Linked DNA regions of Homo sapiens: all the other regions are reported to be linked to region 1. The links are microRNA targets in miRTarBase. Many come from high-throughput screens and were not tested one by one. Region 1 holds a microRNA gene; each other region holds the end of a gene's coding sequence.
What was found. Region 1 holds the annotated microRNA hsa-miR-924 (AGAGUCUUGUGAUGUCUUGC, at 2,319-2,338, shown strand). A microRNA usually pairs through its seed, bases 2 to 8, with sites in the 3' UTR of a target mRNA and lowers its output. Matches are read on the target gene's strand: a 7mer-m8 pairs with bases 2 to 8, a 7mer-A1 pairs with bases 2 to 7 and ends in A, and an 8mer does both.

Region 2: the mRNA of ZNF440 is a reported target of hsa-miR-924. Seed matches in the 3' UTR shown: 8mer at 2,619-2,626.
Region 3: the mRNA of EMCN is a reported target of hsa-miR-924. The part of its 3' UTR that is shown has no 7-base or 8-base seed match.
Region 4: miRTarBase lists SNAP29 as a target of hsa-miR-924. Seed matches in the 3' UTR shown: 7mer-m8 at 1,586-1,592 and 7mer-m8 at 1,295-1,301.
Region 5: the mRNA of DUSP5 is a reported target of hsa-miR-924. Seed matches in the 3' UTR shown: 8mer at 5,188-5,195.

The regions. Positions count from the first base shown.
Region 1 is chr18:39,617,845-39,624,490 of GRCh38, reverse strand. MIR924 (microRNA 924) reads left to right here and starts at 2,316; the gene lies at 2,316-2,368. The region is part of intron 2 of MIR924HG (MIR924 host gene); the gene reads left to right.
Region 2 is chr19:11,830,847-11,836,244 of GRCh38, forward strand. ZNF440 (zinc finger protein 440) reads left to right here. Exons shown (of 4, transcript NM_152357.3): 4 at 522-4,370. The coding sequence ends at 2,118. Among named protein-coding and RNA genes, the nearest start is that of ZNF439, 15 kb to the right of the region's middle.
Region 3 is chr4:100,405,586-100,412,231 of GRCh38, reverse strand. It overlaps EMCN (endomucin), which reads left to right. Exons shown (of 12, transcript NM_016242.4): 11 at 1,877-1,950. The coding sequence ends at 1,911. Among named protein-coding and RNA genes, the nearest start is that of SNORA101A, 14 kb to the right of the region's middle.
Region 4 is chr22:20,885,692-20,892,337 of GRCh38, reverse strand. SNAP29 (synaptosome associated protein 29) reads right to left here. Exons shown (of 5, transcript NM_004782.4): 5 at 1,124-4,659. The coding sequence ends at 4,502. Among named protein-coding and RNA genes, the nearest start is that of CRKL, 28 kb to the left of the region's middle. RefSeq lists an enhancer at 6,067-6,567.
Region 5 is chr10:110,509,030-110,515,675 of GRCh38, reverse strand. DUSP5 (dual specificity phosphatase 5) reads right to left here. Exons shown (of 4, transcript NM_004419.4): 4 at 4,143-5,656. The coding sequence ends at 5,250. Among named protein-coding and RNA genes, the nearest start is that of DUSP5, 14 kb to the right of the region's middle. RefSeq lists enhancers at 2,575-2,844, 2,925-2,974, 3,405-3,484.

The DNA of each region.
Region 1 (6,646 bases):
ATCAAACTTAAAAGGAAATGTTTGTTACTTGGAAATTAGGTTTTATTCTGGCACAGTATCTTTAACTAGCTGTCCAGATGTTAAAATTGATTTCTGGAAGATCTAAGTTGAGATCTCAAGGCATATAAACCTCTAATTCTTACTGTGATTGGTAATCAGTAATTCTCAATTTCTTAAATTAATTATTTAATTCTGCCAAGAAAAGTGATCTTGGGATTCAAATAAACGTGACTTTGAATCTGAATACTATACATTACTGATGACTTTAGCTAAGTTACTTAACATTTTATGAACAGTTTTCATACATCTAAAATGGTAGTGATAATGCCTACACCCTAGAATTGTTGTGAGAATTAAATAAAATAATGGATGTATGAAGGGATTAAGTATGTGACTGGCACATAGTAAGGGCTCAGAAAATGCTATTATTTTGTTAAAGTCAGAAAAAAGGAAACGTACTATCAGGGATTCAAGTACTTGGATATAAGCAATAGTTTACAAACATTTAGTTTCTTTGAATCTTGCGTTGTATTTTAAAACTGTGTGCATTTTTAACTTTTCCTCACAACAATCTGTTTGTGTTAACATGAAATTCTCCATCAAATAATAGGTCATATTGACCTTTAAAGAAAAGAGTATGTAAAATTCTACTTCCTAACACCTAGAACACCATGCTTCAAAACAAGATGCTGGGATAGAGGAAAGCTCATTTAACAGTCTTAATATTGTCAGTTAGTATTAATGTAACATTCATATTTGTGAGAGATAACATTGACTCCCAGAGGAAAGAATGAAAATACCCTAATATTTGCCATATTTACCCATCTAAATCTTATGATCTGAATCTCAGTGACCTTTATTGATCAGTCATAGTAAGCCTAGGAATACAGGAGTGAAAGCTTATTAAAAAGTTTTACAGTAGGAATGAAAAGAAGTAAAGTAAACATGGAAAAGGGCCAAGTGGGTGACTTGAGAGATCCACGTGCTCTCCATCCGACCCTTGACTTGGGGTTTTATACATTGGCGTGGTTCTGGGGTTTGCATTTCATCTCCCTTGATTTTTTTTTGGGCTGGCTATCTGTACATACGTGCAGTGGTCTGTCAGCACTTGAGAGGGGCTGCATGCACAGTGTTTACTGCAATTGTGCACATGCTCATTTGAGGCATTTTTCCCTTACCAGTGGAGTGTTCCTAGAGGAAGGTCATATACCAATTAAACTCTACCATTTTGCCTTTTACTGTGCATACTTAAGCCTGCTCACCAAACTCCTGAGATCTTAGGAAGCTACTGATCACCAGTTTCGCGTGTTTTCTGTCTTTTGGGAGACTGCCATTTCCTGGCACCAGCTATGGTTGCCCTTCACGGGGTAGAAGGCCCTCTCCTGCCATGCTCATGTCTGCCTAGCTACCTATTCTAACATTCTGTGCACCTAAAGGTTGAAAATGAAGCAAAATTAATATAATTGAACAGTTTATTTGTGCCAAGGTTGAGGACTGCTGTCCAAGAGTCATAGATTCAAGTAGTCCTGAATATATGCTGCTGTTAGCATTTACAGCAGTTCCAAGTGGATTTTCAAAGAAAAAATGAAGAAGTAGAAGTTAGAGGCAGTTCCTAAAAATTTTTTAAATAAGGTATATTGTTTATTGAAATAATAAGCTGTTGACTATTTATTATTCTTTGTATCATAAATCCCAGGAACATGAAGAAAATAGGTGAGAGTCACATTGTAAAACTTGGGGTAATATTTTAGGAAGTTTATCAGCTAGTCTGGAAACTACACGGAAGGAAAGAAAAAAACCAAATGCCTTTAAACAATTACCCTCCAAGCATGGATGTGTGGGATGAGAGGGTGAGTGAAGTCTCATGCTCATGGTTCTCTGGGCATGAAAAATGTTACATACCTCACATTCCTCAGACTACTTTGAGGAATCTATAGATAAAAATTGGGGCAAAAAGGAAAATTTAAATTCATGTCTGAGCTGGAGAGTAGAGAAAATGGTACAAAGAGACTCATATAAAGAAGGATTCACTTAGGGTTTGGGTTTCTATTCCACACACTGTTAAAATATGCTCTTGGCTGATGGACAAAATGGACTTCTCTTGGCTAACTGAGGTGCTCAAGGTTAAAACAGAACCAGGCAGCCAAGGCTGGGTGAGGAAGGGATCACATACTCTGTATTCTTGGGAAAATGTTTTAAAAGTGTCACAGGACCTCTTTCTGCAATCAAACTAAACCAGTTTCTGTTATTTATCCTAAGATAGATTGCTGGTGAAAATTCCTCAACTGACCACCCACAGACCACCTAAGCCAGTCAATAGAGTCTTGTGATGTCTTGCTTAAGGGCCATCCAACCTAGAGTCTACAACTGATTCCCTTCCATCCTATGGTTTTTGCCTTTATAATAATTTTCTACTCCTTGACTCCTCTTCGGTGTGTATTTTGGTTTGCACTGAAGGCTGCATCTCCCCAGTCTGCAGATTGCTTTTAGAAAATAAAGTTCTCATTTTGCCTCTGTAAATCTCATTGGTATATACTGTAGGAGCAAAGAAAGCTTCCCCTCTGCCCTCTAAAGGTTTGCTGAAAATAAACTGAAAATAGGCAGATTAATAATACAAAAAGGCATACAACATTTATTTAATGTGCAGGAGTACGAGGGAATCACAGGAGAATGATGGCCCAATAACTCAATGAGGTCCAGGTATTTATATAACCTTCTCAGGAGAAGGGGCAATCAAGGTTGTAGCAATTTTGAGGGGTAGTAAATGATTTTTAGGGGGAATGAATGGACTCAACAGACAAAAATTAACTTGGAAATGATTCTCTTTGGAATTCAAATAAGGCTGAGAGACATTATCTTATAAAAATGTCCCTCCAGATATGGTTGCATTCCTGTCTTCTTTTCTGTGATAGGTAATGAGATTTCAGAGAGGGAATGGAGGGCAGTTGGGTTCCTTTGGCAGGTCCAGTCTTAAAGTAGATAAGGAAATTTCAGAGAAAAGCCTAAATCCTGTGCTTTGTTTGGAAGAGCACATTGTCATATTTTTGGGTATTGTTTTCTGAACCCCAATAATAGGCACACAGATAATTTTTCCACTGAGGACTCCACATTTTAAATTATTTAGCAATAGGCTTTTTGACATTTTTACTAATCATAGGTATATACTCTCCAAATTTTTTGATCAGCACAAGCTATATCACTTCAACCAGAGTTATTCCAATGAGTTGTTACTTTACACAAAGCAAAGAAGCCTGACATTGATCTAAGTCTGAGCAGGTTTTTCTTAGTTACCTGAAAAAGGCTTTAATTTAGTGTTTTCTTGTTTGTTTGTTTGTTTTCAATATTACAGAAGACTTGTGAACCTTTATCACTTAGCCCCATGGGTCTAAAGACCATATTAGAATGACAGACCAGAAGTGAATCTTTCTCCTCTGGTAGCCAATATTGAAGTATTTGGAAGTGGTGACATGTCTGGTATTCAAGCCCTAGGAGATATCTGAGAGACTGATCAAAGGAGCAGGGGAAGCCTGTCTCTTGTATGCCCCAATTTCACAGAATACCTCTTTGTATTTTATAGTCTTTTACTATCTGTTGTTGCACTTAGCATAGAATTGCAAATTCCTATTGATTGATTAAACCAATTTAGACTGGTTCACTTGTAGACGGCCCAAAGGGAAAAACAGAAAACAAACAAAAAAGAAAAAAATATCTAAGTTATTTCACTTCAAGGGCCTCTGAATGTGTGTTGCAATACAGAGAACAATGATCTCCTCTGTCACGCAGTTTCTTTTTTCAAGATTCCTTATAGGTTGTTACTGTTTTCCCCCACCACAGTTTGTAAATAGCAGAATATGAAACAGGCAGTTGTTCTAGTAATTTGCAGTTTCAAACCTACATCTTAATGCCTTTCCCCCTAAGTCATTAATTACAGCACAATGGATCAAAATCTCAAGCACACACCTCCTTCAGAGGACTATGGCTGGTTTTATAGTTCAGGAAAGGGCAGAGCCAACTGTCTTTTCTTCTGACCCTTATGAATTGCATGCACACCCAAGCCAGCTTGACCTCTTTATCTAAAATCTTGAAGTTGTGACCCAGGGAGGGCCTGTGAAGACAAGATCTATAATGAATGTGTGACTTAAATATGCTTATACTATGATTGACTTTGTGGTCACAGTGGCTATATGATATAGTTTAGATTAGTGCACCCACACAAATCTCATGCCAAATTGTAACCTCCACTGTTGGAGGAGGAGCCTGGGGAGAGATGACTGGATCATGGGAGAGGACTTTCCTCTTGCTGTTCTCGTGATACTAAGCGAGTTCTCATGATATCCAGTTGTTTAAAGAAGTGTGTGGCAACAACTTCTTTGCCCTCTTCCTCCTTGTTTGGCCATGTAAGATCTGTCTGCTTCTCCTTCACCTTCTGCCATAATTGTAAGTTTCCTGAGGCCTCCTTAGCCATGCTTCCTGTACAGCCTGCAGAACTGTGAGTCAATTAAAACCCTTTTCTTTATAAATTACCCATTCTCAGGTAGTTCTTTATAGCAGTGTAAGAACGAACTAACACAGAAAATTGGTACCAGGAAGTGAGGCATTGCTAATAAGATACCTGAAAACATGGAAGGAGCTTTAGAACTGGGTAATGGGCAGAGGTTGGAACAGTTTGTGGGGTTCAAAAGAAAACAGGAAGACGAAAGAAAGTTTGGAACTTCCTAGAGTTGTGTTGAATGGTTGTGACCAAAATGCTGATAGTGATACGAAAATAAAGTCCAGGCTGAGGAGGTCTCAGATGAGATGAGAAATTTACTAGGAACTGGAGTAAAGGTCACTCTGTGTCCCAAATTGGTGGGTTCCTTGTCTCACTGACTTCAAGAATGAAGCTGCGGACCCTCGCGGTGAGTGTCACAGTTCTTAAAGATGGTGTGTCCAAAGTTTGTTCCTTCTGATGTTCACACGTATTCGGAGTTTCTTCCTTCTGGTGGGTTGGTGGTCTCGCTGGCTTCAGGAGTGAAGCTGCAGACCTTCCCGTGAATGTTACAGCTCTTAAGGCAGCGCGTCTGTAGTTGTTCAATACTCCCATCTGGAGTTGTTTATTCCTCCCGGTGGGTTCGTGGTCTTGCTGGCCTCAGGAGTGAAGCTGCAGACCTTCGTGCTGAGTGTTACAGCTCATAAAGAACGTGCGGACCCAAAAAGCGAGCAGCAGCAAGATTTATTGCAAAGAGCGAAAGAACAAAGCTTCCACAGTGCGGAAGAGGACCCTGAGAGGGTTGCCACTGCTGGCTGGGGCAGCCTGCTTTTATTCCCTTATGTGGCCCCACCCACGTCCTGCTGATTGGTCCATTTTACAGAGAGCTGATTGGTCCGTTTTGACAGGGTGCAGTTTGGTGCGTTTACAATCCCTGAGCTAGAAACAAAAGTTCTCCAAGTCCCCACTAGATTAGCTAGACACAGAGCACTGATTGGTACATTTACAAACCTTAAGCTAGACTCAGGGTGCTGACTGGTGTGTATACAATCCTCCAGCTATGCATAAAGGTTCTCCAAGTCCCAGCTAGACTCAAGAGCCCAGCTGGCTTCACCTAGCGGATCCTGCACCAGGGCCACAGGCGGAGCTGCCTGCCAGTACCGCGCTGCATGCCTGCACTCCTCAGCCCTTGGGCGGTCGATGGGACCCGGCGCCACAGAGCAGGAGGCGGTGCTTGTTGGGGAGGCTTGGGCCACGCAGGAGCCCACGGGGTGGGGGGAGGGTTGGGGAGGCTTGGGCATGGCGGGCTGCAGGTCCTGAGCCCTGCCCTGCAGGGAAGCAGCTGAGGCCTGGCAAGAATTCAAGCATGGCACGGGCAGGCCAGCAGTGATGGGGCACCCGGAGCCCCCTCAGCAGCTGCTGGCCTTGGTGCTAAGCCCCTCACTACCCTGGGCCGGCAGCTCAGACCGGACGCTCTGATTGCGGTCCCGCCGAGCCCACACCCACCTGGAACTTGTGCTGGCCCATGAGCGCTGCGCGTTGCCCCAGTTCCCACCCACGCCTCTCCCTCCACACCTCCCCCCAAGCAGAGGGAGCCGCTCCAGCCTTGGCCAGCCCAGACAGGGGCTCCACAGTGCAGCGGCGGGCTGAAGGGCTCCTCAAGCATGACCAGAGTGGGCGCCAAGGCCGAGGAGGCGTCGAGAGTGAGCGGGAGCCGCCAGCATGTTGTCACCTCTCAACTCTGCTATGCTTTAGCAAAGAGACTGGTGACAGTGTGCGCCTGCTGTAGGGATCTATGAAATTTGAACTTGAACATGATGATTTAGGGTATTTGATGGAAGGAATTTCTAAGCAGCAGAGCATTCAAGATGGGCCTGGCTGCTTCTAACAGTGTATGATCCTATGCGTGAGCAAAGAGATTATCTGAAACTGGAACTTATATTTAAAAGGGAAGCAGATCATAACAGTTTAGACAATTTGCAACCTGACCATGTGGTAGAAAATAAAAATCCATTTTCGGCCAGGTGCAGTGGCTCACCCCTGTAATCCCAGCACTTTGGGAAGCTGAGGTGCATGGGTCACAAAGTCAGGAGTTCCAGACCAGTCTGACCAATATGGCAAAACCCCATCTCTACTAAAAATACAAAAATTAGCTGAGCATGGTGGTGCACACCTGTA
Region 2 (5,398 bases), not on the chromosome of region 1:
TCCTGTAATCCCAATCCTTTGAGAAGTGGAGATAGGAGGATAGCTTGAGGCCAGCAGTTCAAGAACAGCCTGGGCAACATAACGAGACCACATATCAACAACAGCAAAAAATTAGCTGGGCATTGTGGTCTGTAGTCCCAGCTACTCAGGAGGCTGAGTGAGGCAGGAGGATCACTTGAGCCAGTAAAGGCTGCAGTAAGCTATGGTGATATCACCACACTCCAGTGTGGGCAACAGGATAAGACCCTGAAACAAAAGAAAAATGACACAGAGTATTTAGTATTTTAAAATAGTTTACATGGGAAGAGTATTAAGATACCCCATATAAACAGTTTTTTAAATAATAGGTATGGCTGGGTCACCTTGTAGAATATGTTGTCCAGTCACCTTCAAACAATTCAGACAGGGCAGAAAGCCTACACTTTGATGGAGAGTGTTAAAAATGCAAGTGCAATACTTGTTGATTAATATAGAAGTACTTATAAACAAACCCTTCATAATATGCTTCTCATTTTTGACAGGAGTCTCATAGAAGAAAAAGTCAATGAAATTAAAGATGACAGTCATTGTGGAGAAACTTTTACCCCAGTTCCAGATGACAGACTGAACTTCCAGGAGAAGAAAGCTTCTCCTGAAGTAAAATCATGTGAAAGCTTTGTGTGTGGAGAAGTTGGCCTAGGTAACTCATCTTTTAATATGAACATCAGAGGTGACATTGGACACAAGGCATATGAGTATCAGGAATATGGACCAAAGCCATGTAAGTGTCAACAACCTAAAAAAGCCTTCAGATACCGCCCCTCCTTTAGAACACAAGAAAGGGATCACACTGGAGAGAAACCCAATGCTTGTAAAGTATGTGGAAAAACCTTTATTTCCCATTCAAGTGTTCGAAGACACATGGTAATGCACAGTGGGGATGGACCTTATAAATGTAAGTTTTGTGGGAAAGCATTCCATTGTCTCAGATTATATCTTATCCATGAAAGAATTCACACTGGAGAGAAACCATGTGAATGTAAACAGTGTGGTAAATCCTTTAGTTATTCTGCTACCCATCGAATACATAAAAGAACTCACACTGGAGAAAAGCCTTATGAATATCAGGAGTGTGGGAAAGCATTTCATAGTCCCAGATCCTATCGTAGACATGAAAGGATTCACATGGGAGAAAAGGCTTATCAATGTAAGGAATGTGGAAAAGCATTCACGTGTCCCCGTTATGTTCGTATACATGAAAGGACCCACTCTAGGAAAAATCTCTATGAATGTAAGCAGTGTGGGAAAGCATTATCCTCTCTTACAAGTTTTCAAACACACGTAAGATTGCACTCTGGAGAAAGACCTTATGAATGTAAGATATGTGGAAAAGACTTTTGTTCTGTGAATTCATTTCAAAGACATGAAAAAATTCACAGTGGAGAGAAACCCTATAAATGTAAGCAGTGTGGTAAAGCCTTCCCTCATTCCAGTTCCCTTCGATATCATGAAAGGACTCACACTGGAGAGAAACCCTATGAGTGTAAGCAATGTGGGAAAGCCTTCAGATCTGCCTCACACCTTCGAGTGCATGGTAGGACTCACACTGGAGAGAAACCGTATGAATGTAAGGAATGTGGGAAAGCCTTCAGATATGTGAATAACCTTCAAAGTCATGAAAGGACACAAACACACATAAGAATACACTCTGGAGAAAGACGTTATAAATGTAAGATATGTGGGAAAGGCTTTTATTGTCCCAAATCATTTCAAAGACATGAAAAAACTCACACTGGAGAGAAACTCTATGAATGCAAGCAACGTTCAGTAGTTCCTTCAGTAGTTCCAGTTCCTTTTGATATCATGAAAGGACTCACACTGGAGAGAAGCCCTATAAATGCGAGCAATGTGGGAAAGCCTTCAGAGCTGTGTCAATCCTTTGAATGCATGGTAGGACTCACCCTGAAGAGAAACCCTATGAGTGTGAGCAATGACGGAAAGCCTTCAGATCTGCCCCACACCTTTGAATACGTGGTAGGACACACAATGGAGAGAAGCCCTATGCATGTAAGGAATGTGGGAAACCCTTCGGATCTGCCCAGAACCTTCGAATTCATGAAAGGACACAAACACACATAATGCACTCTGTAGAGAGACCTTATAAATGTAAGATATGTGGGAGGGGCTTTTATTCTGCCAAGTCATTTCAAATACATGAAAAATCTTACACTGGAGAGAAACCCTATGAGTGTAAGCAATGTGGGAAAGCCTTTGTTTCCTTCACTTCCTTTCGATATCATGAAAGGACTCACACTGGAGAGAACCCCTATGAGTGTAAGCAATTTGGGAAAGCCTTCAGATCTGTCAAAAATCTTCGATTTCATAAAAGGACACACACTGGAGAGAAACCCTGTGAATGTAAGAAATGTAGAAAAGCATTCCATAATTTCTCTTCTTTGCAAATACATGAAAGGATGCACAGAGGAGAGAAGCTCTGTGAATGTAAGCATTGTGGGAAAGCATTCATATCTGCCAAGATCCTTTGAATACATGCAAGAACACACAATGGAGAGAAACCCTATGAATGTAAAGAATGCAGAAAAGCATTCAGCTTGCCTACTTCCTTTCATAGACATGAAAAGACTCACACTGGAAGGAAACACTATGAATGCAAGCAATGTGGCAAAGCTTTCACTTCTTCCAGTTCTTTTCAATATCATGAAAGAACACACTAGGGAGAAACCCTATCAATGTAAGCAATGTGCAAAAGCCTTTATTTCTTCCACTTCTTTTCAATATCATGAAAGGACTCACATGGGAGAGAAACCCTATGAGTGTATGCCAAGTGGGAAAGCCTTCATTTCTTCTAGTTCCCTTCAATATCATGAAAGGACTCACACTGGAGAGAAGCCCTATGAATATAAGCAATGTGGGAAAGCCTTCAGATCAGCCTCGCACCTTCAAATGCATGGAAGGACTCACACTGGAGAAAAACCCTATGAATGTAAGCAGTATGGGAAAGCGTTCAGACCTGACAAGATTCTTTGAATACAGATAATGAATGTAAACAATTAACTGTTTATAATAACTGTATACTAACAAATGATATTCTTTTTAAATAAGAAGCTATAATATCCCATTGGTGTCATGTATTAGATCAGCCTTATACTGTTAAATTGTTATTATTTGGACATTGTGAGTCAGTATAACCATGTGGATAAAATGCCAGACATCTTTTTATTCGAAAATTTTACTTTTCATGCTTCTGTACTTACATTTTTATCTCAACCTTAATTTTTCTTTCTTTTTTTTTTTCCCCCAGAAAGAATCTCACTCTGTCACCCAGGCTGGAGTGCAGTGGCATGATCTCAGGTCACTGCAACCTCTGCCTCCAGGGTTCAAGCAATTCTCCTGCCTCAGTCTCCTGAGTAGCTGGGACTACAGGCATGCGCCACCATGCCAGGCTAATTTTTTGTATTTTTTAGTAGAGACGGGGTTTCACCATATTGGCTAGGCTGGTCTCAAACTCCAGACCTCATGATTTACCCACCTCGGCCTCCCAAAATGCTGGGATTACAGACATGAACCATCATGCCCAGCTGCAACCCTAATTTTTCATTCAGTCATAATACCAATAGTTATCTCATGCACCTCTGAGTGCCTTCTTCCCCAAAACCAGCAGTGCCATACCTGCTGTCAGCAAGGGTGTAATATACCATAGTGATAAATATGACCAAAAGCCATAAATGACTGTGAGATGTATGAGAATTACAAGTCACATTAGTAAGAAGAGAAAAATTTTGGTCATGTTTATGATTTGAAATACGTTTTCCTCTATCACATTTAAAAATATAGTTACAAAATGCCCTTGTTTTTGTCCTGATTCATCATGGTCACTGAGGAGCATCGTCTCATATGCCTGGTATGTGACACGTGTCTCTCCAACAATAAAAGACTTGGCCTTGGCTGGGCATGGTGGCTCACGCCTGTAATCCCAGCACTTTGGGAGGCCGAGGTCAGGAGTTAGAGACCATTCTGACCAATATGATCAAACCCCGTCTCTACTAAAAATACAAAAGTTAGCAGGGCGTGGTGGCATGCTCCTGTAATCCTAGCTATTCAGGAGGCTGACATAGGAGAATTGCTTGAATATAGGAAGCAGAGGTTGCAGTGAGCCGAGGTTGCACCATTGTACTCCAGCCTGGGCAACAAGAGTGAAACTCTGTCTTAAAAAACACAAAAAAAGACTTGGCCTTAGGGCCGAGTGCGGTGGCTCACGCCTATAATCCCAGCACTTTGGGAGGCCGAGGCGGGCGGATCACTAGGTCAGGAAATGGAGACCATCCTGGCCAACACAGTGAAACCCAGTCTCTACTAAAAAATACAAAAAATTAGTGAGGCGTGGTCTCAGGCTCCTGCAGTCCCAGCTACTTGGGAGGCTGAGGCAGGAGAATGGTGTGAACCTGTGAGGTGGAGCTTGCAGTGAGCCAAGATCGCGCCATTGCACTCCAACCTGGACGACAGAGCAAGACTCCATCTCAAAAAAAAAAAAAAAAAAAAAAAGACTTGGCCTTGTGGTGAGGGGAGGGCATCTGTAAACTCCTGGACCTGTTTTTGCCTTACTTATTCTCTAAAGACTAAAATATTTCCTAAAATGTACAGGCACTGTTTACCAGAAAGTACCTTAGTTAAAACATATAAATTTGTTTATGCCTTATAAAGCTATATTTTTTCAAATTGCTTTACTGAGTCATAGGAGGCTAATAAATTTGTGTAAATTGTCTAAATACAAGCCTGTCTTATATTTCTCTGATAATGTGCTGCTGATAATGTGCTGCTGAGGCTAACTTTCTCTGATAATGTGCTGCTGAGGTTAACTTGTCAACAGCCTGCTTATCTCAGCAGTGTAAAGTTAACAGCAACATGGAAAAGTTTCTTTTATATATTATGCAATGGCATAGAGCAATTCAGTCACTTCCTTTAAGGTTCCAATGAAGCTGCTCTTTAGGAACGCTTATTTCAAACTCCCTAAGGTCAAAATCCAGGCACCACAAGATGCAGCATCAGCCACTGACCAAACCCTGTCTGTGTGTGGAGATGACACACCCAGTCCCAGATAATGTATCCACACCAGTGAAGGGTGGAGTCGTTGATTGTCAGATCACACAAAGTGACTCAGAGCAGGGAAGACAGGGCAGTGAAACCTGATCAGGCACAGTGGCTCACACCTGTAATCCCACCACTTTGCTAGTCCAAAGCGGGTGGATCACTTGAGGTCAGGAGTTCAAGACAAGCCTGGTCAACATGGTGAAACCCTGTCTCTACTAAAAATACAAAAACTAGCTGGGCATCGTGGTGTGTGCCTGTAATCCCAGCTAATCAGGATGCTGAGGCAGGAGAATGGCTTGAGCCTGGAGAC
Region 3 (6,646 bases), not on the chromosome of region 1:
CTTGATATACAATAATAATGCATATTTCTCCGACTTCATTCATTCCCTTCCCTGTCCCCTGACTGTCTCTCTCTCTGAACCCAGCTTTCTAGAAGGAAGAGAGAGTCTCTTGCTCTCCTTTGTCATGTACACTTACCCCTCTAATGGTAATTACATATAATTAATATGTCATTAGCAAACTAACTAATTGGTATGCTATGGCAATTACTCATTAAGTGCATAGTCATCTTTGTTTGCTTATTTATTTTTACAAGTAAAAGTTCATTAACAACAAAAAAAAACCACAGAGTAAAAATGAACAAAACATTCACAAATTTATAAAGCCATATATAGAATCCTCTTCTGTCCGCAGCCCGTCAATATTTGTCTCATTCTCTGCATTTCCACCAAAGCTTCCTTGACTGTTTCAACTACAAATAGTCTTTCCCTCATCTTAACATGTTGTTAATTTGGCAAATTAACATATATTACTGCCTTATAATATTTCTTCATGGCTGAAACTACCATTTTAATATTTGACCAGATTATGCATAATGAAAAATAGAAAAAAATAGAGAATAAAAAAGAATTTAAAACTACCTATGAAACAATCTTCATACAACCACTACTGGTATTTGATATATTTCCCTCTGGATTTTTTTTTCACTAGATATGTGTGTGGGTTGTTTTCTTTTACTATAAATATCATTATTCTTGTTACTGATATCATATTGTTATTAAATTTTTCTCAAAATTTCTAGTCTGTCAATTAAACAGACCTTGAGGAAGAATATTACGAATTGTAAAGATTTTCAATGACTTGCTTTGCATGACTTCTGGCAGATACTAGGGGATGACTCAATATTTATTTTATTTACTTCTCATTCCAGTACTTCATAGCCGTGGGTTCCAAGCAGGTGCTGTGTCTTCTGCAAAACGAACAATAGTTAGCAAAAGATTGCCTTGGAGCAGGGGCTGGGGGTGCTGCAGAACTATGCCCAACATTTCTCAGAGCATAGAATCGAAGGAGCTCTTGAAGAGGAGTCTTGAATTTGTTCTCCTCAGAGGTCTCTGGCACTATTTATTATTGCCGTGATGGTACAAGTAACAGGTGACATCCTCAGAGTCCCGAAAGGACAGATTTCCTAACAAGTGGCAGATAAAAGCTGGAGCAAAATGATGAGAATTATTCTAAAAGCCGGAGATTTGACCTATATTGCTTTTATATTGTTTGACTGATGTTGATACTCGATTCTACCTGAAGGACACAAGTAATGCGAAATATATTGGTCATGAATCCAGTGGCATGTGAAAAATACTTGGGGCCTCTCAGCTTGCCACCATCCTAGGTTAATATTTCTCTGTATATTGGATGGTGGAATAGCACTGGGATTTTGAGTAATGGCACCTGCGCTGCTCTGTATATCACCCAAGTGTTCATATTGGCCTATAAATTCATTTTCACAAAACCCTCACTGAATTATTTAAACAGAAGGACCCTAGAATGTCTTCCTGATAAAATGGCACTTTAAACACATGACATGGGCTTGCTTAGGCACAGCCAGCTCATGTAACAAGCAAAAATCAATACTTATTCCCCAGGGTTTCTCTAATGTTATCATCTCCCAACTCACATCCCCGCCCCCACTGCCCCCTGACCTATCCCACCCAGGACTTCATATTGCTACTTTAAAGTGAAAACAGATGATGTCTGGGAAAAGTTCATATATTTTGGTGACTAATTTCTAGACAATACCAAGAGGCAAATGGTGGCTTTAATGACATTCTTGCAGGAAAGTTGAACTTTCCTTGAAAAATAGAAAAAAGCTAGGAAACTTTATTTTCATCCTTACTCAGTCTCTGAGCTTACAGATCAAAACATATCTTCTGTTCTCAGGTGAGCACTCTGCACAAGGAAAAACCAAGAACTGACAGCTTGAGGAATTCTCTCCACACCTAGGCAATAATTACGTAAGTTTCCCAATTTCATTCACGGAGACAATCATTAATATCTGTTTTGTTAGCCTGGTGCAGCTTAGATTGTTTTTAAAGAATTTCAAAAGCTGGAAAGCTAATGGTTTGTGTCAATGCAATGATCATTGTCTATTTGTCTAAAAACAAACTCTAACAAAAATTGCCAAAAAATGAATGACCTGGTGGTTGTAGACGATTTGTCCAATTCTCTTGCCTGTCTAAGGAATGACACAATTTGCTCTTTCTGCCTGTTGTTAATGTTTCCTTGTAAATTCAGTCTGCCTACCTAGGTCAGTAAGCACACACTAACTGTGGCACTTAGACAGGCTTCTGTTGCTGACAAAGACTGGCAGAATCCAAGTGACGGTGCTTGCAAATTTGCAGTTTATTGCAAGAAAATGATAAAATATAGAAACTGCATTAAAGTAAAGATGTGTATCACAGCCGTAGGCTGGCTCAGGGAAATGGGTTCAGAGAAGCTAGTTGAAGGGTCTAATTGCCCTCTCTCTATAAGGACCATACCAGAATATGGTCCTTATATTTTTCTCTCTGGGTCCAGAAACCATGGATGTGTGGAAAAAAACACCTCAAACAAGATGATCTAAAATTCAGTTTCAGCCAGGTTTCCTTTTACTCAGCTGGTCATGTAGACATAGTCTTGCTGTGTAACCAGCCAAGCAACAGAGCCCTCCAGGTATCTTGACAAAACCAGATACAAATGATCAATCTTACTACAATAATTGTGAATCAATAAAAAATGGAAATTTCTCAAAAGTATGTTCCATGTCATGACCAGGAGTAAGCTCAAGGCAGGTACGTTTCTTATTTTAGTAAACAGCTCAGGCCAACGTTAAACCTGCTTTGGAATTAAGTCTCCCAGTTGGTATGGGATTGACTTTTACTTTCCTAGAACTAAGTAAGGAAATGCTCTTCTGACTTTAATTTAATTGTTACAAGAAGTATTGATTAAGTGCTGTCACTTAGTTTTTGAGGTTTTATAAAACTTGCAGAAGAATCTACCTTTCGGCAACTAACAATAAAAAATAAAATAAAATAAAATAAATACGTGTCCAGAATTGGCCTGACCACAATGATAGTCACTCTAGGTAAAGTGTCCACGATGAGAAATATTGTTATTCATGGCCTATGTCTAATCCCTAATTAACTAACACTGTTCTGTTACAGACACTCAGAAATTTCTTGTAGAATAAATGGTACCTGCTGTGCTTGTCTGACCAGTAGCAGAAGACAGAGACAGAGGAGTGCCATCCAAACATATGTGTCAGTATCAGAATTTTATCCCTCTCTAGCCAGTAATTAGGGATGGATTAGGAATCTTGGAATTTGTGCACCTCCAGCATGCTGCAGTGCCCTATGGAAAAGAGGCAAGACTGCCTTCCCCTGCCCTCCTGCTCTTCACCAGTCATGAGCCCCTAGCTTGGGCCTGCAATGCAACCACCTTTCCCCAGCTGATTATTCTAATTGGCAGTGGCTCTGAGTGGCATGCCAAGGTCCCTGCCCCTGCTGCCACCAAGCTGGGGAGAGAGAAAAAATCCTAAGCTTGTCTCAGGCCTGCAGTGCACAGTCTGGGAGTGCTAAGCTGAGATCTATGACCAGCACTTGAGTGGGAGAGGATCACACACTCTCAGAGCACTGAGGGGAAGCATGGCTACAAATGTGAGGAAACACAGAGGGGCTGCATGGCTGGGTAAGAGCCTATCTACCAGTCATTATGTTTAAGCACTATCTATTAAATTGCAAACCAAACTTCAACACCAAAAATACTTTGGTAATATACTCCTCTGTAAAACCAAGGACAAGAACTCAACTGCAAATAAAGACCCTGCACAAAGCCTCAGCCCTCTGAACACATACAGAAATGAAACCGACTGACTATACTCAAATTACACTGCAATTAAAGAAACATCAGTCCACATAGGTGAGAAAGAACCAGCTCAAGAACTCCTGAAACTCTAAAAGCCAGATTGCCTCCTTACCTCCAAATGACTGAACTAGCTGCTCTGCAGTGATTCTTAACCAGAATAAAATGGATGAAATTACAGAAATAGAATTCAGAATCTGGATGGCAATGAAGATCACTGAAAATCAGAAGATTGAAACCCATTCCGAGGAATCTGAGGAATTCAACAAAACCATACAAGGAATGAAATATGAAATAGCCATTTTAAGAAAGAACAAAACTGATCTGACAGAGCTGAAAAACTCACCACAAGAATTTCATAACACATTGGAAGTATTAACAGCAGAGTAGACCAAGTCAAGTAAAGAATCTCAGAACTCAAAGACTAGTTCTTCACATTAACAGTCAGATAAAAATAAAGAAAATAGAATTTTCAAAAATGAACAAATCTCCAAGAAACATGAGATTATGTAAAAAGACAAAACTTATGACCCATTGGCATCCCTGAAAGACAGGGAAAGAAAGCAAGCAATTTGGAAAACATGTTTGAGGATATTGTCCATGAAAATGTCCCCAACTTAGCTAGAGAGGTTGATATTCAAATTCAGGAAATTCAGAGAACCCCAGCAAGATACTATATAATACAACCATCCCCAAGACACATAGTCATCAGATCCTCCAAGGTCAATGTGAAAAGAAAACTATTAAAGGTAGCTAGGGAGAATGAGCAGGTCAACCTACAAAGGGAACCACAGCAGTGGATAACACTGGACCTTTCAGCCAAAACTCTACAAGCCAGAAGAGACTGGGGGCCTATATTCAGCATCCTTAAAGAAAAGAAATTCCAACAAAGAATTTCATATCCAGCCAAACTAGACCTCATAAGCAAAGGAGAAATAAAATCCTTTTCAGACAAGCAAATACTAAGGGAATTCATTACCACCAGACCTGCTTTTCAAGAGGTTCATAGGGAGTGCTGAATATGGAAATGAAAGACCATTACTGGCTACTACAAAAACACACTAAAGTTCATACACCATTGATGCTATAAAGCAAAAACACAATCATGTCTACGTAACGCCAGGTAACAACAGAATGACAGGATCAAATCCACACATATTAATATTAACCTTGAATGGTAGTGGGCTAAACACTCCACTTAAAAGGCATAAAGTGGCAAATTGATTAAAGAAGAAAGACCCAAGTGTATGCTGTCTTTAAGAGACCAATCTCACATTCAAGGACACCTATAGGCTCAGAGTAAAGGGATGGAGAAAGATTTATCAAGCAAATAGAAAACAAACAAAAAAGAGCAGGGGTTGCTATTCTTATTTCAGACAAAACAGACTTTAAACCAAAAATGATCAAAAAGGACAAAGAAAGGAAGTGATAAAGGGTTCAACTCAACAAGAAGACTTAACTATCCTAAATATATGCACCCAATACTACAGCACCTGGATTTATAAAACAAATTCTTTTAGTCTTACAAAGAGACATAGGTAACCACACAATAATAGTAGATTTCAACACCCCACTGATGATATTGGAGAGATCATCAAGACAGATTACTAACAAAGACATCTGGGACCTACATTTGACAATTGACAAAATAGAACTAACATGCATCTACAGAAAAGTCCACTCAACAAAAGCAGAATATAAATCCTTCTCATCCATGCATGACACATACTCTAAAATTGACTACATGCTCAGCCAGAAATTCTCAATAATTTCAAAAAAGCCAAAATCATACCAGCCACATTCTCCGACCACAGCACAATAAGAGTAGAAATCAATACCAAGAAGATTTTTAAAAACCCTACAACTAAGTGGATATTAAATAATCTGCTCCTGAATGACTTTTGTGTAAACAATGAAATTAAAGCAGAAATTATGAAATTCTTTAAAACTAATGAAAGCAAATATACAACATACCAGAATCTCTGAGATACAGCTTCAACAGTGTTAAGACAAAAGTTAATAGCACTAAATGCCCACATCAAAAAATCAGAAAGATCTCAAATTGACAATCTAACATCACACCTAGAGGAACTAAACAAATAAGAACAAACTAATCCCACAGCTAGCAAAAGAAAAATAACCAAAATCAGAGATGAATTGAGTGACATGGAGATGATAAGAACTATGCAAAAGATCAACAAAACCAAAAGTTTGCCTTTTGGAAGAATAAATAAGACTGATAGACTGTTAGCTAGACTAAAAATGAAAAAAGAGAAGATCCAAATAAACACTATCAGAAATGATAGTGGATATTACCACTGACTCCACAGAAATACAAAAACAAACAAACAAACAAAAAATCCAGAGACTATTACAAACATCTTTATGTACCCAAACCAGAAAACCTAAAAGAAATAGATAAATTCCTGGAAAAATACAACGTCCCAAGATTGAACCAGGAATAAATTGAAACCCTGAACAGACCAATAATGCATTCCAAAATTGAATCAGTAATAAAAAAACCCTACCAACCAGAAAAAGCCCTGGACCAGACAGATTCACAGCTGAATTCTACCAGGTGTACAAAGAAGAGCTGGTACCAATCCTACTGAATCAATTCCAAAAAAACGAGAAGAAACTCCTCCCTAACTCTTTCTATGTGGCTAACATCACACTGATATCATGAAACCTGCAGAAACACAATGAACAAAGAAAACTTCAGGCCAATATCTCTGATGAACCTAGATGCAAAAGTTCTCAACAAAATACTAGTAAAGTAAACTGAACCCAGAAGAATGTCATAAAGCTAAT
Region 4 (6,646 bases), not on the chromosome of region 1:
TAGAAACGGGGTTTCACCGTGTTAGCCAGGATGGTCTTGATCTTCTGACCTCATGATCTGCCTGCCTCGGCCTCCCAAAGTGCTGGGATTACAGGCGAGTCACCATGCCCAGCCATAATGAGCACTTTTAATGACTAGCTCATCAATTTTTTTTAATATGGAATTTCGCTCTGTCACCCAGGCTGGAGTGCAGTGGTGTGGTCTCGGCTCACTGCAACCTCTGCCTTCCGGGTTCAGGTGATTCTCGTGCCTCAGTCTCCTGAGTAGCTGGGACTATAGGCACATGCCACCATGCCTGGCTAATTTTTGTATTTTTAATAGAGACAGCGTTTCACTGTGTTGGCCAGGCTGGTCTCGAACTTAGCTCATCATTTTATTATTTTTTAGAGACAGGGTCTCCCTCTGTTGCCCAGGCCAGAGTGCAGTGGCATGATCATAACTCACTGCAGCCTCAAATTCCTGAGCTCAAGCAATTCTCCCACCTTAGCCTCCAAAGTAGCTGGGACTAGAGGCCAAGCTATTTTTAAAAATTTTTTCTAGAGGTGGGGTCTCACTATGTTGTCCAGACTGGTCTCAAACTCCTGGCCTCAGGAGATTCTCCTGCCTCAGCCTCCCAAAGCACTGGGATTATTGGCATGAGCCACCATGCCCTGGCTCTAGCTCATCATTTTGTACTGACACCGCATTCATCAGAGCTGAAGATGCTGAACAACATTTGTAACTTTAAAATTCTACAGGTCACGTGTAATCCCAGCACTTTGGGAGGCTGAGGCGGGCAGATCACAAGGTCAGGAGTTGGAGACCAGCCTGGCCAGCACAGTGAAACCCTGTCTGTATTAAAAAAATAAAAAAATTAGCCGGGCATGGTGGTGCACACCTGTAACCCCAGCTACTCGACAGGCTGAGGCAGAATTGCTTGAACCTGGGAGGCGGAGGTTGCAGTGAGCCGAGATTGTGCCACTGCACTCCAGGCTGGGTGACTGAGTGAGACTCTATCTCAAAAAAAAAAAAAAAAAAAAAAAATCTGCAGAAAAGGCCCATATGGGCAAAGTATAAGATTATTACTAAATTGGTATAGTGTACACTTAAAATTACATATTCACAAAAAGAGGTTAAAGAGAAATTTAAATGCACTGACATTTTTATTTCTTGCAACCCGAGTTAAATTCACGTTTCATTTCCTACAGAATGCAAAAAAGACATCCACAAGGCAACTCCACTTCTAAGTTACAAATTACTAGATGTTAGAAAACTTTCTCGAAGGACAGTGCACTATTTTTTATTTTTTGAGACAGAGTCTTGCTCTGTCGCCTTGGCTCACTGCAAGCTCCGCCTCCTGAGTTCACGCCATTCTTCTGCCTCAGTCTCCCGAGTAGTTGGGACTACAGGCGCCCGCCACCATGCCCGACTAATTTTTTATATTTTTAGTAGAGACGGGGTTTCACTGTGTTAGCCAGGATGGTCTCGATCTTCTGACCTCGTGATCCGCCTGCCTTGGCCTTCCAAAGTGCTGAGATTACAGGCGTGAGCCACCGTGACCAGCCAGAGAGTGCACTATTTTTTTTTTTTTTTTTTTTTTGAGACGGAGTCTTGCTCTGTTGCCCAGGCTGGAGTGCAATGGCGCTGTCTCGGCTCACTGCAAGCTCTGCCTCCCAGGTTCATGCCATTCTCCTGCCTCAGCCTCCTGAGTAGCTGGGACTACAGGCGCCCACCACCACGCCCAGCTAATTTTTTGTGTGTTTTTAGTAGAGATGGGGTTTCACCGTGTTAGCCAGGATGGTCTCGATCTCCTGACCTCGTGATCCCCCCGCCTTGGCCTCCCAAAGCACTGGGATTACAGGCATGAGCCACCGCGCCCAGCCACTATTTTTTAAGTTAGTAGCACACTTAACATATAACCAACCTTAAGTTAGAAAAGTCATTTTTTGAAGGCACAGTTTGTTTCCAGCTCAACTGTGGAAATCAAAATCTGTCTGCAGTACCAAATCCCATCCCACAGTCAGCCCAGCCCTGGCACCATTTTGCTTGTCTCCATGAAATGTGTCTAGTCTAGAGGGTAGCATTTTTTTGTCGATCCCAATCATCATGTGAAAAGTTTCTGGAGCCATGTTACGTCTTCCTTCATTCTCTGTGAAAATGCAAGCAACTCATTTATAAAGTAGCATCAGCAACCAGGCCTTCCTGGGCATGGGAGTGGGGAAGAAGTGGCAGAAAGGACCAGCTCGCTGTCCTGTAGCTTACGGACAGTCCCCTCAGCACAGGACGTAGAACGAGAGGGTCTGAACAAGAACAGGACAAAACGAGGCCCTCTAATATGTCAGACGAAGACAAATTTCCAGAAAAGTGAAGGCAACTCCCCTTCCATATACCTGGGGTTAAGAAAAAAAAAACCAAAAAACAGAGAAGGGCGGGTGACTGGCTTCATCAGTCCAGCAAAAGACAGGGAATGTGCATAAAATAAGATGTTACTGTGCTTCAAGTCAGTTGAATCACTAATCTCATTAGGCAAGTGGAAGTCTGCTGAGAATGTGGCAGTGGCCTTTACATGTATTTATTTTAAATAATTAGCTTAGGTCTGAGCTATAATGACTAATCTCCACGAGTCTATGCCTGACGGTGATAAAAAGTTGACATACATGGAAGGTGTTAGAGGAAAGAACCAGAAACAATTACAGTAAGTGGAACCGTGCACAAAAGCTGCTCTGCATCCCGGGTTCATGCTTTTAAGCAGCCTTTTTGCTGAAAGCCTCACGAAGTAGTTTTGTTTGGGTTGAGTGTTATGTTTAAAATTTCCCTTCTACCAGTTATTGAGAAAATAATAATGCCGAGCTCATCTAATAAACAAATGTCTAGTTCGATAAGCTTTAATCAGGCCCTCACACCCTGGGATGGTCGTTAATGACATGGATCAGAATCCCTGAGGTGGCTGGAATCTAACAAGTGGGTAGCACAGAAAGCTCACCTTGCCTATGGAGGCTGTGGATATTTTTAGGAAGGTCATGCATTATGGGATGGGAATTTTTATAAACAAATTGCTACATAAAAACTAATGCACTGTTGCAGCACTTGTGGAGGTTTCCTTTGCTTTGAGACACCACTGTTTATAGGCTGCAGACTGTAAAGGGAAGTACTGGGAAATGGCAAAGGTCACATGGGCCAGTGCCATGTTTTAAGGTCAAAGGCACTGTTATTTTAAGTGACCTATCTCATTATTAAAATCAGTCACTTTCACCATCTTCAAAATATTTTGTTTTTTTAAAAAGACAAGGGCCTTGTGGCTCCAACTATTTTGTTGGATGTACCAACATAAATAAATCAGTTTTAATTGATGCTTCTGCATGATTTCTTTTGTAAAATGAAAGGAGAAAATGAACTGGGCCAGTTAAAATGGTATCTGGGCTTTTTGCCCCCTTAGCAAAATCCTTCTATACAAAGTCAGCGTCATTTATAGAGTGCCAGTCCTAAAACCAGGTGGCAGAGAAATAAGTGATGATTCAAGTTACCTTGCAAGAAGTGCAGAAGAGTGGGTGGGAATGCTAGACAGGTCAGGAGACCCCCGGTACCAAATAAACATTTTGCCCTACTGAGGCCTGCCTAATGGTGATTCCCAGAGGGGTGGAGGAAGACCATTGTGCAGCTGCATCTGTGCAATACTCCATTCCCACAAACTCTATTGGGCGCCCCTGTCGGTCAGCCTCGCAGCCTCGAGCCAGTGGAAGACCTGTTGCAAATCACAGATGGAGAGTTACAGATGGGAGCACGTGGGGAAGAGGGGCTCACCCAATTCCCCACACATTTCCAGGAGTCGCAGTGAGCAGTGCTGGTGTGAAGCCCTCCTACTAATATACATGCCAAGGATGGGGGGCTGGAGGGAAGCGGGGACATCTGCCAACAAAAGAGCAAGATGGCACACTCTATTTCCCATTCTAACACTGATCCTTTCTGGGAGGATGAAAGAATCACAGATAATGTGCTCAGAGAGTGTGTGTGTGTGTGTGTGTGTGTGTGTGTGTGTGTGTGTGTGTGAATGATGACTCCTAAACAAAGGTGTGGGAAGGACCCTCCTCCACCAAACGACTGGTTCACAGGCCCCCTTAACACTCTGACTCATGGTAAGGCTTAGGAATGAGAAATAGAGGCTCATGGCTGCAAGACTGAAATTCTGTTCCCATCTTTCCATATGCTCATTAAAATGAGAAATGCAACTCTTCTTATTCCAGCATGGTAATCAAACGCCCAAGATATGCAGGGCCAGGCTACTGTGCTCAGACAAAAACTCTAATAAGCATTTTGCTGGAAGAACTTGGTGAGGTGTTAACCCTAGGAAAATGTGGGACAAACACTTCCTTATAACAGCAAAAATGTCTTAAGACCTACTCTATTATAACATTTGCAAACACACATTAATTTACATACTAAAATAGTAAATGAAATTTCTTGGAAGTTCAAAAAAAGATCTTTCAAATCTTTTCATCACAATAGAGTGGAAATCCGTCTGTCTTCAGAGTTGTCGAACTTTTCTTTCTGTGCTTTTTATGTTGACATCTAACTTGTCCACTTTGGTTGTCAGCCGGTCAAGAATGTCATCTTGCTCCTCAATTTCTGTCTGCATCCCCAGGGCTATGTCCTTCAGACGACCCAGTCCCATGGACAGCTCATCTGCAGGAGGAGGAAATGACACGCAGGCATGAGCAAACAGTCACGGCACCTGCAAATGCTTCTTGATGGTGTGGGTAAGTGGGAGAGACAGGGATCTGTGTTGCCTGGGGGGACTGCACCCACTGCAGAGATGAGTCTTGACTTAATTGATTCTGTCAGGGTGAAGAGTAAAGCCTTTTCCCAGGTTTGTGACTGTGTGTGTGTGTGTGTATGTGTGTGTGTGTTTGTGCACGCTGGGGGTAGGGAGATATGCCCAGGGCTGCTTTCTGCCTTTTTACTAGGAACAGCAGCCAGGAAAGAGCCAGAGAGGAGAGAGAAGAGGTGGTGCTTTGTAAGCCTTCTTACTTGCAAGATTAAATATAAAACACTAAGAGAAAAAGGATCAGGATACACAAAGGCTTAGCACTGGTACCACAAATCTAAGCAAAATCAGTTTTTTGTTTTTTTTTTTTTTGAGACAGCATTTTGCTCTTTTGTCCAGGCTGGAGTGCAGTGCCATGATCTCGGCTCACTGCAACCTCCGTCTCCTGGGTTCAAGCAATTCTTCTGCCTCAGCCTCCTGAGTAGCTGGGACTACAGGCACACGCCACCACACCCGACTAATTTTTTTTGTATTTTTAGTAGAGATAGGGTTTCACCATATTGGCCAGGCTGGTCTCGAACTCCTTACCTTGTGATCCGCCCGTCTTGGCCTCCCAAAGTGCTAGGATTACAGGCGTGAGCCACCGCGCCCGGCCAAAATCAGTTTTTTTAAAAAGGTAGTTTTGGCCGGGTACAATGGCTCATGCCTGTAATCCCAGCACTTTGAGAGGCTGAGGTGGGTGGATCGTATGAGGTCGGGATTTTGAGGCCAGCTTGGCCAACATGGTGAAACCCCATCTCTACTAAAAAATATAAAAATTAGCCAGATGTGGTGGTGCATGCCTGTATTCCCTGCTACTCGGGAGGCTGAGGCAAGAGAATCACTTGAACCTGAGAGGAGGAGGTTGCAGTAAGCTGAGATCAATGCACTGCACTCCAACCTGGGCGACAGAGCAAGACTCCGTCTCAAAAAATGAAATAAAAAGATAGGCTGAGTGTGGTGGCTCATGCCTGTAATCCCAGCACTTTGGGAGGCCGAGGTGGGTGGATCACTTGAGGTCAGGAGATCGAGACCATCCTGGCTAACATGGTGAAACCCCGTCTCTACTAAAAATACAAAAATTAGCTGGGCATGGTGGTGCACACCTTGTAATCCCAGCTACTCGGGAGGCTGAGGCATGAGAATCACTTGAACCCAGCAGGCAGAGGCTGCAGTGAGCTGAGATTGTGCCACTGCACTCTAGCCTGGGCGACAGAGTAAAACTCTCAGAAAGAAATTAAAAAATATAAAAATAAAAAGATTGTCTTCAAGTCAGGCACAGTGGCTCATGCTTGTAATCCCAGCACTCTGGGAGGCTGAGGTGGGAGGATCACTTGAGCCCAGAAGTTGGAGACTAGCCTGGGCAACAAAGCGAGACTCCATTTCTAAAAAAGAAAAGAAAAGAAAGAGAAAAACAGTATAATTAAAATTAAAAAAAAAAAAAAGATAAGTCTTCAGCTCTTTGCTTCTTAAGCTTACTAAAATTCATGGCCTCGTGCTCCATGGAGAGCAGAGCCTGTGGTTGCCTCAGGCCTCAGGAGGAAGCTCACTGGCAGCCAGGGCAGCAAAGGATAAGCAAACAGAGAGGCTGAGATAAAATGTGTGATAATGTAAAACCACCAGGCCAGGGCGCTGGAGTCCAGAGAGCTTGCCTGAGATCCTGAAATAGCAGGGAGATAGTGTTAAGACGGGAAGAGTGTGAACAAAGGCAACACTCCCTGCCCCACCAGAGTGGACCGGCCTGGCCTGTGTCAGCAGGGCCAGAGGGCTGAGCTCTGAACTAGCCACTCGCCCTTCTGCCCAGGCCCACCTCCTACTCTAGACTGCGTCCTGCCGGTAACTGCCCAGCTGCTCGTCCACAGTGCC
Region 5 (6,646 bases), not on the chromosome of region 1:
ACCAGTGACCAACGAGGTGAGGGGGTACCATGGCCTCTGACCAATAAGGTAGCAGTAATTAGCTAAGGCTGGGAATCTGCTTCCTCCAGGATTGGGGAGGAACTGGCAAATAGGTCCAGGATAAAGAAACTCACGTTTGGAGGGTCATAGGGGCTCTGAGAGAAACGGAGAGAACAGCTTCTGCTTCTGACCAGCGTTTCATTCTGTTTGTCACTTCTTCACTCCTTCACTCAACCAGTACTCATTGAATACCTAGGATAAGTCAGACCCTGTCCTTGGTTACTCTTGAAATGCAATGTAATCTCTGTTCTCCCGGTGTTTCTAGTCTGAAGGAGATGACGTTAATAAAATAATCACAGAGAAATGAAAAATTTTTAAACTTTGATGAAATACGAAGAAAAGATATAGAAGACTATGAGAGCCAATAGGGACATCTGACCTAGTCTGGGAGGGCTTTCCTGGCAAGGTGAATTTTGAACTGAGAGGCGAAAAACCAGTATGAGTTAATCGGTTGGAGGGGGAATTTATAGGAGAAAGATTCCAGTCAGAGGGACCAGCATGTGCAAAGGTCCTGAGGCAGGAGGGATGTTGGCATGTTTAAGGGATTGTCAGAAAGCCAATGTGGCTGGAATGGAATATAACTGGGGATTCAGTGCTATTTGCATTTATCCACAAACACTTTTCCTTAAAGTAGACTGAGGAGACTTCCTTGCAAACAAAAGCCCAATGGACAGAAGTACCTATTATATACCCCAGGTGTTCAGAGGGGTACAAGATCAATGAAATAGCTTCATTCGAGCTCTACCTTTTGCTAACTGTGTGACTTTGGGCAAGTTACTTAATATTTCTGAGGTTCAGTTTGTGCATCTGTAAAAATGAGATATAAAAACATTTATAGGCAGGCGCAGTGGCTCACGCCTGTAATCCCAGCACTTTGGGAGGCTGAGGAGGGTGGATCACAAGGTCAGGAGTTCAAGACCAGCCTGGCCAACATGGTAAAACCTTGTCTCTACTAAAAATACAAAAATCAGCCGGGCATGGTGGCACATGCCTGTAATCCCAGCTACTTGGGAGGCTGAGGCAGGAGAATTGCTTGAACCCAGGAGGTGGAGGTTGCAGTGAGCTGAGATGGGGCCACTGCGCTCCAGCCTGGGCGACAGGGCAAGACTCCCTCTAAAAAAAAAAAAAAAAAAAAAAAAAAAAAAAAAAAAAAAAAAAAAATTAATGAACAATGCAAGAGAGACTAAGGGGTGGGCTGAGTAGGGTGTGGATTGCTGGCACAGTAACACAGCCATAACCACAGGCTGGCAAATCTGAGGAGCTTGGGTACAAGGTTGTGCTGAACCACAGATAGAAGATGAAGCTAGAGCCTAGAAGAGGGGAGCTGGAGAAGGGGATTGTGTGGGGCTAACGACATTGGTCCAACTAAGGAGGTCGGCTCCAGGCAGGGACAGAAAGCCAGTGAACAGTCATCAGTACTCATGGACCCATGAGGGTGGGGCCATATGGCTGTTTGGCTGTTTTCCCCTGAATTCCAGGTTCTAGCAGGGGTTGTCAAGTGGATGGAAGGGTGATGGTTATCTAAGCATGGGAGTCCCCTCCATCCCATCCAGTGGTTAGGGGTCAGGAGGGCCTGCGCTGTAGCTTTGAGCATCCGTCCATCAGTGCCAACACTCTCCATAGAATGGTACTGGCAGCAGAATACAAGGCTGAAAGTATAGGGCAGTGCTAGTGATTCTGAGGCAAGGATCCAGGGCCCCAGCTATGAGGTTTGGGCTCTGTACAGAATCTATTTCAGAAGTAATACAGGACTTGGCAGACTCACTGAAAAGGTAAAGGAACCCAGTCTTATGGATGAACCCTTCAGAGTGAGTTGAACAATAGTAACACTGAGGATGCACAGGCTACTCTCTATATATTTATACCCTATTTCATTCCATAAATGCAGTGGAGTCTATTTAAAGAGGGTGTAAAAGTTTTGCTGTTCTTTTTAAGAATGATGAGGAAATGGAAGTAAAAGAAAAATAAAGATGGGAAATTTTAAAGGAAACGGTGGAATCAACACCCAAAATTCATGTTAAGTTCCTACAAAACTGCCAGAAGTGGGCTAAGAGTTTAGTTCTGAGCTGCCTGGTGGCCTTAGCAAGGAAGGGAAACAGAGCAGTCATGAGCTTTATGGTGTTCAGAAGAACAACCAGTAACTCAAAGAGATAGAGCTGTTCAGAGTATTGAAATTGGTGAGGCACTTTCCTGAGGGCCTCACACAGTGAAGATCCACAGTACCCAGGACTCCTGCCAGCACACTGGATCCTGGTTAGAGACTGCTCACACAACTCCTGCCCCATCTGGCCTAGCTCATTAGCTAGGGTGGATCTGAGGGGGCTTCCTACAGGTACAGCCGGGAAAGAGAGAACTAACATCTTTCTTCTCCTGAACACATCTCTATGTGCGATGATGCTTGGAGACCGACAGAGGTGTTTCTCAAAACCTGGGGATGAAGGATCTAAACGCCATCAGCTTGAATTCCCCATTTGGCACTGGAAGCCAGTGTAGAGTTGGTCTTGGCAAGAATGGAGATGTAATCAATGAAGAGACTATTAAGTGGAGTGAGGGTTCTAGAGCCATCTCCAGCTGTGGGGCTTCACTTGGCTTACCCTCCAGTGACTCACCCGCCGATGAGCAATCCTCATATGCCTGATTTAGAGGACTTACTCACCCTTCAGAGAAAGACTTTAATGCAATAAAGCAAATGTCAGCAAGTGGGCTGAGCTTAGCACATCACCCCAGCCTGCATCCAGCTTCCTACTCCCCGGCTCTCCCTACCCAAGGTTCCTTTAGCCACTCAGCACCTGCATAGGCCCACACAATGGGCAGGCTTCAGGGACACACTCCAAGGCTGGTCAGAGGCTCAGAGATGGGACACCACGAGGGATTAGGCACCAGCTAGATAAGAGCCCTGGAGAAATCTAGTCCACAGAGGTTGGAGATTAGCTCCAAACCACTGGAGAGCTGGGGGAAGGGCAAGGGCTAGAACCCACAACTTCTCACCATCTGGTCTAGTGCTCTTCACTGTGGAAGCTGTTTGGTTACACAGATGAGGGGAGTGGGCTGAAAGAAATTCAGCATCCTAACCCTGGGTGACCTTCTCATCTGTGGACTTTCCAAGGAACCTCTGAACACAGTTGGGGAAAGGAAAGACAGGTGGAGAGAAAGACCTCACGCAAAGCCTTTGAGGTGAGGAATTTAGAGAGCTGGGCTGCCTGTGCTCTGCCACCATCTTGCTATTTGTTGACACAATGCATGTCGGGAGAACTGGACACCCTTTGGACCCTCCAGCATTGAGAAGTATGGCTGGAATCCCTGTTATTTATCAGCTGACTGGGATGGCATAAACCCCAACCAGCTCCCTGTTCCCTCAGATTAGGAACAGGACCCAGGAGTTAGGCTGGAGCCCAGGCAGAGCCAATCATGGGGAGAAGCTGACAACTGCCCCTTCCTTCCTCCACCTACGCAGAGGAAGTTACTCACAAAGCAAGTCGATTCAGCCTTGGATTTAAACCTACTCATTGAGGGATTTACGTTGGAACTCCTGGGGAATTATCTAGAATTAGTTGCAAGAGTGGAAAGAGGGCGTCAGGCAGGCTGGCAGGGCAAACTTTCACCTCATTCACTTCTCCATCCCTTGGCCACTTACCCAGCCTTTTCTGAGTCTGCCATATGCCAGGCACTGGAGGGAGGTAGCTGGCCACAAGCTTGGCACTCAGGCTTACTGGAACCAAGGGCCTTATGCTTTAAGGGACTCTTGGGATCATCTAACTCAGCTCACTCTTCACAGGTGAGGAATCTGAGGTTCAAGTAGAGCTCTTTGCCTAGTGCGATGGCAGTGAAGGGCCCTGAGTGGGCAGATACTCTCACCACCTCCCTATGAGGCCTGCACTAAGGAATTCTCTTGCCGGTTAGCTTAGGGAAACCCCTCAGTTGGAAAGCAACATTCTGTATCGTCATGCCTATAGCTGCACCTCCACCACCATCACCCTGTTGTTCATTTACAAATAAATCCCAATGAAGCAGGCTGGGTCCCCACCCAAGGGTATTCCTACCTTATCCCAATTCACCAACAACATGAAGAAGTGCTTTTCTCCTTTTACTATTTTTATTTTACACTATAAAAAACAAGAACAACAACAACAACCAGTAACATACTGCTTTTCTTCACATTCACACGGGTCTTAGAAAATTATTGCCTTTTCCCCTGGAGAAATAACTAACAGACAAAAAGAAAAAAAAAGTAGTACCACGTTGCAAAATCTGCAAATCCCAGAAGTCCACAGCTTGAAGACAACCTCCAGGGGCAGGGAGGAAAACAATTGTCACAAGAGACATAAGCACACAGAAGGACAGGCAGCTGAGGAAACCAGTTTGCACCGCCACTGACCCAGGATACCTAGCAAGTACCCTTCTCCTCCTGGAATCTACTGCTACCACCTCGAAGGTATGACTTTTTTGGTCTATGATCTGAAGAACTCTTTTCCCAAAGGAAGAGTTGCTCTGAGAAGAGGTGGAATGAGACAAGTTCAAGTATGACTAAGAATCATGCCAAAGTCCAAGGTCAGTGAAGAACCCATGGCAAAAAAAATCCAGAAAAGCCAACATCTTGCTACTTCAACCAACTACCTCATTGGACCCAAGAGGGTGTCTACACAACATTTCAGGGTTCAAATCAGGATGCTGATCATGTCCCTACAAACCCTGTAGGGTTACTTTCCCAACTAGACGGTGATCAGCTTATGCCCCGAAGCAACAGAGACAGACATTGAAACTGCCAAAGTTCAAAAAATAAGGTGGAAATTGTGCTTCCTTCAAAATGAATTGGCTTCATAACTGCCTTTTCTCCTGGTCCAGCAACTTCTTTCTCCCACGTTGCTGCAGGTATTTATTGCCTTATGCTTGAAATGAAAAGGCGAACTCTGAGGTGCAAGGACTGGGCAGTCCCAAGAGGGCAGGGGTCTGGAAGTACAGTAGTCAGCACATGCTGTGCTCCCGTAATGGCTTGGCCTTCCTTCAGTCCCGAGAACCTACCCTGAGGTCCGTCTGAAGTTCATTTGCAAGCCTGGTGACCACTCACTATCTCACTGGGGCAGCATGACAGAATGAGGTCTTCAGTATTGCACAGGTATGAAATGTCCATGAGTCTTAAAAACAAAAATCACAGTTGCTCTTGGGGCTGGGCCGATTCCTCCATCCCAGTTTTAGCAGGATGTGGCCGTTGCCACAGGGCTTCTGCTGAGCTCTGAGACTGTTGAGTGGGTAGGCACCGGTGCCAGCACCGAGGCAGGGAATGTGCAGTAGGCACCCTGCATGTCAGGGCTCAGTGTCTGCAAATGGCCTATCAGTGAAGAGCCTGCTGCCTCCCCTTGGCAGGAGGGAGGCTGGGGGTTGGGCGTGGAGGGCAGGATCTCAGATTCGTACTGCAGGAGCTGGCCCATGAAGCCAAAGTTGGGCGAGACCATGCTCCTCCTCTGCTTGATGTAATCGAAGGCCTCCTTCAGGCGGAACTGCTTGGTCTTCATAAGGTAAGCCATGCAGATGGTGGGTGAACGGGAGATCCCAGCCTCACAGTGGACCAGGACCTTGCCTCCCTTTTCCCTGACACAGTCTGGAAGGAAGAAAAGATGGTGGGAGTGAGTTGGGATTAGAATCTAAGGGCAATGGCAAAACACAAGAATCAAACACTGGAGTAACCTAGATATGAAACTGTTGTGCCTGCCTAAGAGCCACGGCCCTACACTACACTTCTGCCAGTCTTTAATCCCCACTGGTGAGGATAGAGCTTTTGGGGTCCCAGCAAAGACTATCCCCAAGTAGGACCTTTACAGTTTACAGCAGCTATTGTCACAAGAGACATAAGCACACAGAAGCTTTACAGTTCCCAAGATACTTGCAGATTCTGCCTCTGGAGGCGATGGACCTGGAGCAGTCCCTTCCTGGGGATGCCATCTTAACCTAGGTTCCACTGATGGTTCCAAGAGGGCATTGGAAAATCCTTGAAATTGTGCACATTTTTATTGGGCACATACATTTTTCTAAGGAGAGCATCCCAGGCTCAAAGACTGACTTGGAGAAGCAACTCTTGTCTCTCCAGGTCTGATTCTAAGGGTAACAACCTAACCCCGATCCTGGTAGAGGCCTTCCGGTCTCTCCGGGCACCCTGTCTGGCTGTGCCAGGGCAGGATGCTTGGCTCAGCTCCCAGGGTTCTCACCACCAAACACACAATAAATAGCGCATGGCCACTAATTATAGCCCTGGCTAAGTGACGCCTACTAGACGGAGGATATAAATGGCTTTCACAAATTCCATCTTGCTCAACAATGGGAGTCGCTGCTATAAAGCTACCACCATCAGTTAGCATTCTTTAGCTCAATATGACAAAAAGGGGAGGATGCCTCCCTTCCTGTTCTACCTCCCAGCCCCCTGCCCCCAGAAAACCAGCTACAACTATTAAAAATGGGAAGGGGTGAAAGGTTAAAGATACGTACACATCAAATCCACAAAAAATACAGTCTTTCCAATTCCCTCTCTTGCTAGTGAGGAAACAATTACATCACAGGAAGTTAGATGTAGCTGGCACTACGCAGGCTACAATAC